Homo sapiens: one gene and its partners. The protein of the gene in region 1 purifies or fractionates together with the protein of each later gene. This does not show direct contact. Each region holds a gene or a part of one and is shown on either strand. Other genes may lie near its edges.

The links.
Region 2: the proteins of NYX (region 1) and COX16 purify together in Homo sapiens (affinity purification with mass spectrometry; 2 studies listed by BioGRID and IntAct, with this or other methods). This does not show direct contact.
Region 3: the proteins of NYX (region 1) and EMB purify together in Homo sapiens (affinity purification with mass spectrometry; 3 studies listed by BioGRID and IntAct, with this or other methods). This does not show direct contact.

Annotation. Positions count from the first base shown.
Region 1 is NC_000023.11:41,445,578-41,449,326, reverse strand, and holds the start of NYX (nyctalopin precursor), read right to left. Parts: upstream 1,985-3,749; 5' UTR 1,811-1,984; exon of another isoform or gene 1,479-1,810; 5' UTR 1,423-1,478; coding exon 1,401-1,422; intron 1-1,400.
Region 2 is NC_000014.9:70,344,581-70,348,329, reverse strand, and holds part of COX16 (cytochrome c oxidase assembly protein COX16 homolog, mitochondrial isoform 1 precursor), read left to right. Parts: exon of another isoform or gene 1-2,002; intron 2,003-3,136; exon of another isoform or gene 3,137-3,195; intron 3,196-3,749.
Region 3 is NC_000005.10:50,413,599-50,417,347, forward strand, and holds part of EMB (embigin precursor), read right to left. Parts: intron 1-3,749. UniProt on the Homo sapiens protein: Plays a role in the outgrowth of motoneurons and in the formation of neuromuscular junctions.

The DNA of each region.
Region 1 (3,749 bases):
GACTGAACAGAGCAAGTTCCGGTTTTTGAAAAGGTGGAATAAAGAGGAAGAAAACTCCATTACTCCTGTTTTAGATGATCTGGTAAAATGTTCTCTATCAGCATCGCATACAGAGGTCTATTACATAGATCATCATATCTCAAATAATTAAATTCACTTGAGGGTCAGAAAAAAACAGATTCTTTGTGTAGAATCATTTACTGAAGAATTTAAAGGATTTTTCCTTGGGCTATCTCAGTCAGATTGGAACAGCTAGAGCCAGGGAAAATATTTCATAACGAGTCTTCTTGGTATATTAAAGTGCACATAACAGAGCGAGAAACTTTGAAAAATAACTTCAATATCCATAATCCTATAATTCCAAGGCATTTTTCATTTTTTCTTTTTCCTTTAGGAAGGTGGTTTTTTAAAGGGACTTTTGTTTTTAACTAAATGAGCTTAAAATAATGTGATTAGAAACCACTGTAGGCTGGGCACGGTGGTTCATGCCTGCAATCCCAGCACTTTGGGAGGCCGAGACAGGCAGATCACCTGAGGTCAGGAGTTCAAGACCAGCCTGGGCAATATGGCGAAACCCCGTCTTTACTAACAATACAAAAAATTAGCTGGGCGTGGTGGCAGGTGCCTATAGTTCCAGCTACTCAGGAGGCTGAGGCACGAGAATCACTTGAACCCGGGAGGCGGAGGTTGCAGTGAGCCAAGATCCATGCCACTGCTCCCCAGCTTGGGCGAGAGTGAGACTCTGTCTCAAAAAAAAAAAAAAAGAAAAGAAAAGAAAAGAAAAAACCACCGTACGGTGGCTCACGCCTGTAATCCCAGCACTTTGGGAGGCCGAGGCGGGCAGATCACGAGGTCAGGAGATCGAGACCATCCTGGCTAACATGGTGAAACCCCGTCTCTACTAAAAATACAAAAAATTAGCCAGGCGTGGTGGCGGGCACCTGTACTCCCAGCTACTCGGGAGGCTGAGGCAGGAGAATGGCGTGAACCCGGGAGGCGGAGCTTGCAGTGTGCCGAGGTCGCACCACTGTACTCCAGCCTGGGTGACAGAGCGAGACTCCATCTCCAAAAACAAAACAAAACAAAAAAACACTGTAGCACTGTAGCTTTTGGTTATCACACCAATGAATTCATATCTGAAATTAGAATAAGAAAATCACCAAGAGGACTATTTCATATATTCGGCTCAGGAGTTTTGTTTTTAGGAAACAAAAATCCCCACCACCTGCTGTTTTCTTGCTTTCTCTATCCCCTCCCCCACGATCACAGGGTCAGTGAAACCTGATCAGAAGTGTCCAGATACCGCTGTCCCAGAAGCCACTTTAAAGACTCTTTGGGCAGAAGCTCTGTGGCTTCCACCCCTCTTCCCAACCCTTGCACCCACCGGCAGGAGAACTCACCATGCAGAAGCAGGACCAACATCCCTCGGCCTTTCATCCACCCAGTGGCTTAGGACCACCCAGCCGTGGGACCCCTACCTGAGGGGAGAAAGGACAGGTCACCCAGTGCCCAGGAGGGCCCCATGAGAACCCTCCCATGCCTCCACACTTCTTCCTGAATGCCCTGCCTTTCTTTCTTCCTCACATTCCTTCCTTCTTAATGACCCTGGTGTTGGGCTAAGGGAAACCAGTAACAACAGAAAATCAGAAGCTCCCCACAAATGGACAGTTTGGATCTATTAGGAAACCCTTTGTCAGGCTACAGCCCTGACAGCAACTCAGATGGCATCACTGACAACCCAGCAAGGAAATGGATGGAGAGGAAACCCCTGCAGAGAAGCGTTAGTGAATGGTCCTCAAATGTTGCTTACCGTCCTGGGAGTCTCCCTGGTCCTGCTCCTCTGAGGTCCCCCTCCACTCCCTCAGCCCATCCATCTCCCAAGTCAGGCAGCCACAGATGCTGAAAATGGTTTGAGAGAGAAGTAAAGGTGGGGGTGGGGGGACGGGAGGAAGGGGTGAAGAGGAATAGTTACTTGTGCAGGTTTGAGTGCTTATTTTTCTTTCTCCAGATTTAATGGCAGGAAAATCCTCTGTATCACATGAGGATTAACAGAGATGAAAGAATGTGTCTGCCTTTCGAATCACTAAAGCCAGTGACAGATTTTGCTGACATACCAATCGGCTTTATCCCCGGGCCTTGACCACCCTGGCCCTCCTGTCCTCTCTCCATCTGCCTGGCCCCTTTCTCTCCTTAAACCTTCCCCAGACCCTGCCCCGTTCCCTGACCCCAGCCCCAGCCCCAAGCAATATGTAGCCTGAAATTGGCTTCCTGCCACCCAAACAGCATTATCAGCATTTTCAACAAGGACGCATTATATAACTTGGAGAGCTGGAGAAGGGACAGGACAGCTTAAAATGTTTCCCCAAAATGCCGGCTGCTGATTTCCTTTCTTTGAAGTGGTTGATGGTGAATGATACAAAAACGGACTGGAGAGAGTCCTTCCACTACAAGAAGGCAAGAGGTTCCCACTGGGGTTAGGGCTGGTAGTGGTGGCCTAAGGCAGTGGGTCCAGGAATGGGACCTTCAGAATCTGGCTGAGGTTTCTGAAACCCACCAGGACTCAGTTTAGGCCCTGGCTACTCAGTGTGGCCGGTGGACCAGCAGCAGTACCTGAGAGCTCGTTAGGAAAACAGAATCTCAGCGCCTTCTACCCCCCGCCCCAGACCTGTTGAATCAGCATCTGCTTTTTTTTTTTTTTTTTTTTTTTTGAGATGGAGTCTCACTCTGTCGCCCAGGCTGGAGTGCAGTGGCACAATCTTGGCTCACTGCAACCTCCACCTTCTGGGTTCAAGCGATTCCCCTGCCTCAGCTTCCTGAGTAGCTGGGACTACACCATGCCCAGCTAATTTTTTGTATTTTTAGTAGAGACGGGGTTTCACCATGTTGACCAGGATGGTCTTGATCTCTTGACCTTGTGATCCACCCGCCTCGGCCTCCCAGAGTGCTGGGATTACAGGCGTGAACCACCGCGCCCGGCCAGCATCTGCATTTTAACTAGGTCGGCGGAGAGGGGGATTCCTGTGCCCGGTAAAGTTTGGAAAGCCCTGTTTTAGGAGACTGGTGGAGGGGGTCTGATCAAAATGAGGGTGGCAGGGGGGCCTGTTTATCTAGCCTTTCTGGCCAGCAGTTCAGGTGCCCCCACATTCTCCTGGCCCCAGCAAGCCTCTGCTGTCTGCTGGGACAGCACTTCCAGGTATCCATGGCAACCTGCCAAGTTCTGGCCACGCAGGACTTGGTGAGCCAGTGCTGATGAAAGGAAGCCAGGAGTTCCCTTCCCACAGAAAGGGTTCTGGATGTGAATCTAGACATCTCAGGCCACCGTGCCCTGGGGAATTTTTGTTTTCTTCCATTTGAGCCTTGAAAGCCAAAATGTGGCTGAACTTGTCTAACCTGCTGGAAAGAAGAGAATACTAGGGATGGGGTAGGGATGTGGGTGGGGGAGGCCTCTCAAATGACATCTCTATCCCCAGTGTTGGACTCGCCTGGCTTATTAGATGAGAGCAGTGGGCAGCCCTCTCATTGTGACCACCAGTGTCGGAGGTGTCCCTGTAGCCATCACCCCAAGCCTTAGCCCAACGAAGCCCCCACTCCCCCAGCAGCAGTCCAGAGGCTGAATCTCGACTGTAAGAGCCAACCTGTCTGCACCCACAACCTTTGTTCGCAGCTTATTGGTCCAACCTTCCCTTCAATCTTCTCCAGGCCAGTGGGCCTGGTGCTCTGGCACTGGGATCCCACTAAGGAAGACCTTC
Region 2 (3,749 bases), on another chromosome or scaffold:
TGAACAGAGCATACAGTTGGAGGAGCCGTGGGGCAGAGATGAGACTTAGTACACTGTGGTGAGCTAGCATGTCTTTGATATTATGGGTTGAATAAACTGTTAGGTTGGCATGGAGAGATAGTTTTAGGCTTTCAAGGATGAAGACAGCAGCTGCCTCCAGTGCTTGGAGGCAGGCAGACCATCTGAGAACTGTGGCTTCAAGCTGTTTGGAGAGGTAGGCGATAACCTGGAGGGTGGGTCTCTTAGACTGGGTTAGAACACCTAGTGCAACTCTACACGTTCGTTGGTATAGAGGGAGAAAGGTTTGGTGAGGTCTGGGAGAGTGAGGATGGGGGCTGAGATGAGAGTCTTCTGGAGTAGATGGAAAGGTTGGGTAATAGGCTATGCAGGGTTTGAAGGCTCATGGAGAGGGCCTTTAGTGTCTTGGTATAATGGTTTGGCAAGTAGAGCAAAGGAGGGAACCCAGAGCCTAACATATCCCACTAGTCCTAGGAAAGAGAATTTCTTGCTTAGTTTGCAGAGGTGGGAGAGACTGGAGGAGGGATATGTGGTCGGTTGTGAGCCCTCGGGTTCATGGGGTAAGAGCCAGGCCTAGATAAGTGACTAAGGGGGCTCATATTTGTGCTTTCTTAGGGGAGACCCGATACCTCCGTTCTGCCAAGAAGTTTAAAAGAGAGAGATAGCATGGGCGTTGCAGTCTCTTTGAGAGGGGCTACACAGGAGCAGATCATTAACACATTGAAGGAGAGTGGACGGTTTTAGGGATAAGGTACAGAGGTCATGAGCAAGGGCCTGTCCAAAAAGATGGGGGCTGTCTCTGAAACCTTGAGGTAGTACGCACCAGGTGAGCTGATGTGAAAGGTGGGTGTCGGGGTTTTCCCATGTAAAGGCAAAGAGGTTTTGGGAATCAGGGTGTAAAGGAATTGTGGAAAAAAGCATCCTTTAGGTATAGAACAGGAAAATGGGTGGTATTGGAGGGAATTGCAGAAAGTAAAGTATATGGGTTAGGAACTACTGGACATACTGGGAGTACAGCTTGGTTAATGAGCCTGAGGTCCTGGACTAAGTGATAAGTTCCATCTGGCTTTTAAACAGGTAGAACTGGTGTGTTAAAAGGAGAGTTTCTTGGGTGGAGTAGGTGACTGGTGAGGCGGCGAGAAATGATAGGCTTTAGGCCTATGAGAGCTGCTTGGGGGATGGGATACTGCTTCTGTGATAGGAACTGGGTGGACTCTTTAAGGGTAATGCGGACGGGGGTGTGGTGTTTTGCGACTGAAGGTGTGGAAATATTCTAAACAGCGGGGTTAACTACGGATGGGGGATAAGGTAAAGTTGCATGTTTTAAGGTGGCAGGTTGGAGGAGTAGAAGAAAGTTAGATGCCCCGAGGGGTCTGGGTTGATGCGTTGGGTACTATGGGGAATGTGCAAGTGGAGAGTAGTGTGGAGTTTTGAAAGGATGTCTCTGGTATGAGGGCAGGACTAAGAAAGGGTGACTGAAGGAAAAGGTGTGCAGGGAGCAGAAAAGTGGAGGGGTGGCTCAGGGTTTGGAGTCTTGTCTGTCAATTCCCACAACGGAGAAAAGGGAGGACTGGGTGTGTCCTGAAAAATTAGGTAAAGCAGAGTAGTTTGCCCGGTATTAATTAAAAAAAAAATACTGGCCTACCTGCCACCATCAGGGTTACCCTTGGCTCGGATGAAGCGATGGTAGTTGCCGGGGCATCCATTCCAGGGCACCATCAATCTTCAGCGGCAAGGCCAATGAGATCCAAGTAGGAGGTTTTGGCCGGCTTAGGAAGTGATGGGGCCGCCCTTGCAGGGGCCGCTCACAGTCCAATTTCCATTGGGGTCCTCTGCAGAGGGGGCATGGCCTGGTGGGCTTACCTGGATTTGGGCATTGTCTGGACCAGTGGCCTTCATTGCCGCACTTGAAAAGGTGCCAAGTGGAGGTAGGTTGCTAGGAGGCTTCCGTGTGGAGCTGCGGACCCGTGGGCCTGCAGGGCCCCTGATGGCGGAGGCAAGCATTTGAAACTCCGCCTGTTTTTGCCTTTTACTTTCCCTATCACGATTGTTAAAGACTATGAAGGCTAAATTAAGACGGTCTTGTGAGGTTTGAGGGCCATCATCAAGCTTCTGAAGCTTGCACCGAATATCGGGGGTGGATTGGGAGATGAACCGAAGGTTTAAGATAATGGTTCGTTCTGAGGGTTTGAAGGGGGAAGGAGGGTTAACAGGCAGTGGAGGATAGGCAGGGGCGTAAGGTGGCGGGATGAGTTTACAAGCTTTAGGAGAGGGCAGTGGGGGAGGAGAATGGGTACAGGCAATACTAGAATTGTCCCGAGGAGGGGATGGTGTAGGAAAAGAAGTGGATACAGCTGACTGGGAAGATGGCAGCTGGGAAGATGGCAGCTGAGAAGACAACGAGGAGGCTTGGGGGGTTAAAAAAGATGGTTGAGAGGAAAAGGTAGGGGTTGGGAGGGGTGGATAGCAGTCAGTTGGATCGAACGAGAAAAATGAGGTAGGGTCGGGAGGAGAAAGGCGATCAGGGCGGTGAGAATGGAGGGGAAGGATTTGAACAGGTAAGCAAGAATTGCAGAGGTTGGGTTGTGAACTGAGTGCAAAAAGGCCTGGACATAAGGAATTTCTTCCCATTTTTCCAGTCGTCGGCAATAATTGCTTAAGTCAGTTAAAATTGTAAAGTTGAATGTTCTATTTGCAGGCCATTTGGACCCATTATTTAATTTGTACTGTGGCCAGGCTGTATTGCAAAAAAGACAGGTACTTAGAGCGAATATCTTGCCTGAGGCCTAAGGTTTGCAGGTTTTTTATGAAGCAGCCTAGAGGGCTGTTGTTTGGAATGGAGGACCGGAGTTTCCCATAACAGAGGGTAGGCTCAGGAGAACAGGGAAAAAGGAGACCATCCTGGAGGGAGATGATAAAAGGAGCAACTGTCACCGCTGCCTTTTTCGTTCCTGGAACACGATCAAATGGCTTAGAGGCATCCCCCTAAGACCAGATGATCAGCGAGTGCCTGGCACACGCCGGCGCCTTCTTGGACCAACACTGGATATTCGGACCAGAGAAACTAAGAGAGGCCGTGTGAATTTTCCCTGCTAACTGGGCCCCTGAGGAAACTTACCAGTAAGCAAGATCAGTGACCAATGTGCATGCACAGAGAGGCAACTGGAGATCGAGGAGCTTCCTTTGTCTGGCTGCTGTGGCCTGCTGTCTGGGGTGGAGGGGTAGGTTCACAGGGGACGTGGACCAGAACCTCTCCCGGGTTTCAGCACCAGATGTACGGTTCTTGTATCGGTTGGAACCCTGAGAGCGCACCAACAGACAACATGAGGTGGTGAGGAGCAACATGCTGTTTTGATGAGCGCGTGGGTGCAGGTGGGCTGAGGCCTAAAATGGCATCAGCCCCAAGTGAGGATGGGACAAAGGTTTTATAGTCTCCTGTAAACAGGAAGTGTCCTAGTCTGACATAATTGCTCTGTTGTACCTGGATGGCCTCTTTCTCAATCTTCAGGGGTACGTATTTTCCGGCCGGCTCTCTTCCTGCTTCTGCTATCTTGCTGGTGCACACTGCTGGTACAAGTAGCCTTGTGCCTTGGGACTGGGCCTGAGAAGGGATGAGTTGTTCATCTCCTTAAGCTTTCAGGTCCCAGGGAGAATCTTACACTATTCATCCCTGCTCTGAGATGTCAGGGAAATCTACAGGTGTCTTCTGAAATCCAAAGTCCATTCTAAGC
Region 3 (3,749 bases), on another chromosome or scaffold:
GAGATGGAGCCTCGTTGCCCAGGCTGGAGTACAATGGTGTCGTCTCAGCTCACTGCAACCTCCGCCTCCCGGATTCAAGCGATTCTCCTGCCTCAGCCTCCCAAGTAGCTGGGATTACAGGCGCCTGCCACCATGCCTGGCTAATTTTTTTGTATTTTTAGCAGAGATGGGGTTTCACCATGTTGGCCAGGCTAGTCTCAAACTCCTGACCTCAGGCGATCTGCCTGCCTTGGACTCCCAAAGTGATGAGCCACCGCACCTGGCCTGGTTTTTTCAATAGACAAATTTTAAAAGGGAGAGAGATGTCTTTGTATCGGACGTCAGGTGCTATGTTTGGGGCACCTGAAGATTATAAGATACTCAAAAAATACTATTAAAAGAAAAGCAAAACTGAACTGTAATATTTAGGGATGCATACCTGGGTAATAAAGCAATACAGAAAAGCAAGAAAGTGACTGCATAAAAATCAGAATAGTGGTAATTACTCTTAAGGGGAAGAGAAGGAGTTGTGTTTGGAAGACGGTAGTATATCATATAAACAAATTTCTCAAGCTCTTCTCATTCTCAATAATGGTATAGTATGATGAAATGTAGAATGCAGAGCCAAAATGTAGAAAGAAAAATAATACAACTCAAATAAAATGGTCAGGTGCAATGGTTCATGCCTGTGATCCCAGTAATTTGGGAGACTGAGGTGTGTGGGATTGCTTGAGCACAGGCATTCCAGACCAGCCTGGCCAACATGGTGAGACCTCATCTCCACAAAAAAAAAGAAAAAATTAGCCAGGCTTGGTAGTGCATGCCTGTGGTCCCATCTAGTCTCAGGTAGAGGTGGGAAGATCTCTTGAGCCCGAGAGTTGAGGCTGCAGTGAGCTAAGGTGGCACTACTGCACGCCAGGCAAGGTGATAAAGCAGGGCCCTGTCTCAGGCAAAAAAAAAAAAAAAAAAAAAAAAAAAATTCTATCACTTTTAATTACATTTGAAACTTTACGAAATGCTTCCATAAGCAAGGACCAGATGCAAGGTTTGCAGATAGTGAAGTACAGCTCGTGCAAAGTGCTTTGTGAGCACATGCTTGAAATAACTGCTTGTAAAATTGCAAAATTGCTGAATTGAATTTAATGCTCAAAAAGAAAAATAATATTTGATGTCTCTAGAATACATATATTGCCAGAGACTACCTTATTCCTTGCAGTTCCCTTTACTGTGCTCTATTTCACTATCCTAGTATATTTTAAACATTTTGCTAGCCACACCAAATTATTCCAACTACCTTTTAAATGTTGGTGCCCATCAGGATTTTGCTCTCTGGTCTCTTTACTTCTCAATTTGGCACTTCTTTGTTGGATTCAACTATTAACTCTAATGCTCTTTACTTGCAAAATTAGAACCTCCACTGAAGTCGTTTTTTTATTTTACAGCTCCAGGTGTCTACGGAGCATCTAAATCTGGATATCCCATGAGAACTTCAAACTCAAAATATCCAAGAGATCCATTAATATTCCCTTGTGCTGACCTATAACACTGAATCACATGCAGTAGTATTTAGTTGATTCTACCGCTAAAATGTCAAACAAATTTGCCCAGTTTTATCCAACCCTCCTATTATTGGCCTTCATTATCTTTCACCAAGACCAGGTAAATTATCTAATTTCTCTTGGCCAGCTTCTCTTGCTCCAACCAAAGGACAACTTTGGTTGGAGCAATTTAAGCAAAACTCAAATTGTTTAACTGCCTTGATTCTATACCTTGCATGTGCAAATCAAAGTATCTTTGTATTAGACATCAGTTTCCTTATTTGTAAGGTGGGACAATAATATTCCATGAGATTGTAAAAAGTTCTATCATAAGAAACGTCAACAGTAATATAATATAGCAATTAATAAATGCCCACTTACTTCTTCTCACCATTATCTCACTGGGGAATATTATAAAAACTATCATATATGGTGCTAAGGGTTATATGTTGATTAAATAATTTAATCTTCACAACAGCTTTATGAGGTAAGTATCACTGCTACAATTCCAACTTTAGAGATGAGGCAAAGAGAGGCTATTTTGTCTAAGATTACACATCAAGACAAAGGCAACACTGAATCTCAGATTTAGGTATGCCTGAGTCCAGACTGTGATAACCAACAGAATATACCAACTCTCAAACATATTAAATTCTCATTACAATGGAATTAACTTCATCACCTTCAAACTGTTGAAACAAGATTTTAAATAAAAGAAAATATTAATAGAAGATTAAAGAAATGTACAGTGTAGCTATATACCAATATGAATGCGATGATAAAATGAACAGTGCAATCAAAATATTTTAAAAATACACATTTTCAACTAAACATAGTTTTACATAACTTAAAGTGCAACACAGTTTTTCTTAATGGTAGGCCATCCTCCAAGCCCTAATCGTTGTCTCACTGTTTCCTATAATACTTTGCAGGTGCTTCTGCAGTTTGCTGTGCTTCTGCAGTTTGCTTTCCTTCCTGTCAAGAAATCACAGCATCAAAAACATGCAAAAAGCTCTACCTTTTTACATATTTTGTGGTTAGCCAACAAACTAATGTGAGCTCAGTCAACGATGTTTCAACTTCCTTAATACTGCACAACTGCAATGCATTTTTGCTGCTTTAGAGTGCTGCAAAAACATCTATGACATCTGCATTTCTAAAACGATAACAATTTGTTGTTTTTGAAACGTATTTTCAAGACTGTTCTTAAAACCATATAGTAATTTATACCTGTCTAAATAATTTCTTATTTTCATAGGTAACATTTTTAAAGTATATGGGCCTTTCAACAATTTGCAGTCTTCAGAGAAATGACATTTAGATTTTCTTGGGTCTATTCAGGACCCAATCTTGTAAACCATTTCACTAGAAATAAAAGTCTGCTTTGTTCTTTATTAAGAAAAAGAAAATATGGAAGAAGCCAATTAAAATTTATTGCATAGGATAGTGTTTCCAAACATGCTTTAAAGATAGAAACCCTTACTAAACACAGTTAAGTGAACTGTGACATATACGACGGATTCGATGGGACAACTCTGACAGAAGCCAAGATAGAAAATACAGAGCCCTATCAGCCTGACTTTTCATTATTCATAATGAGGTAGGAGGTGGAATGTGACTCTGGACCAGATTGAAGACTGACAGAAACAAGGAAGAGGCAACGAAAGATCCTCTCCGTAAGACACACCCACCAGCACCATGACAGTTTACCATTGCCATGGCTACACCCAGAAGTTACCATCCCTTTCCATGGCAATGACCCAGAAGTTACCTTCTGTTTTCTAGAAATTTCTGAATACCTTGTCCCTTAATTTGCACATAATTAAAAGTAGTATAAACATGGCTGCAGAACTGGCCCTGAGCTGCTACTCTTGACACACTGCCCAGGGGTACCCCTGCTCTGAAGGAGAAGTCACAGAGCTGTAACAACCCTGCCTCAATAAAGCTGATTTTTCTACCACCAGCTCACTCTTGAATTCTTTCCTGAGCCAACCTTCTCGGGCTAAACCCCAATGTTCGGATTCACCTGCCCTGTAATAATTTCACCATAAAAGTCAATAAAGCTTCATGATGCAACCCAAAATGTCTATTAAACATCCAGAATCCTTACAGAAACAGAAGGCCACACTAACATGAGGCCAACACCCCTATATAAAAATGATACAATGGATCTTATTTTTATCATTAATGTTGTGCGTCTTAAACATATGGAGTTAACTTATGAATAAGAAT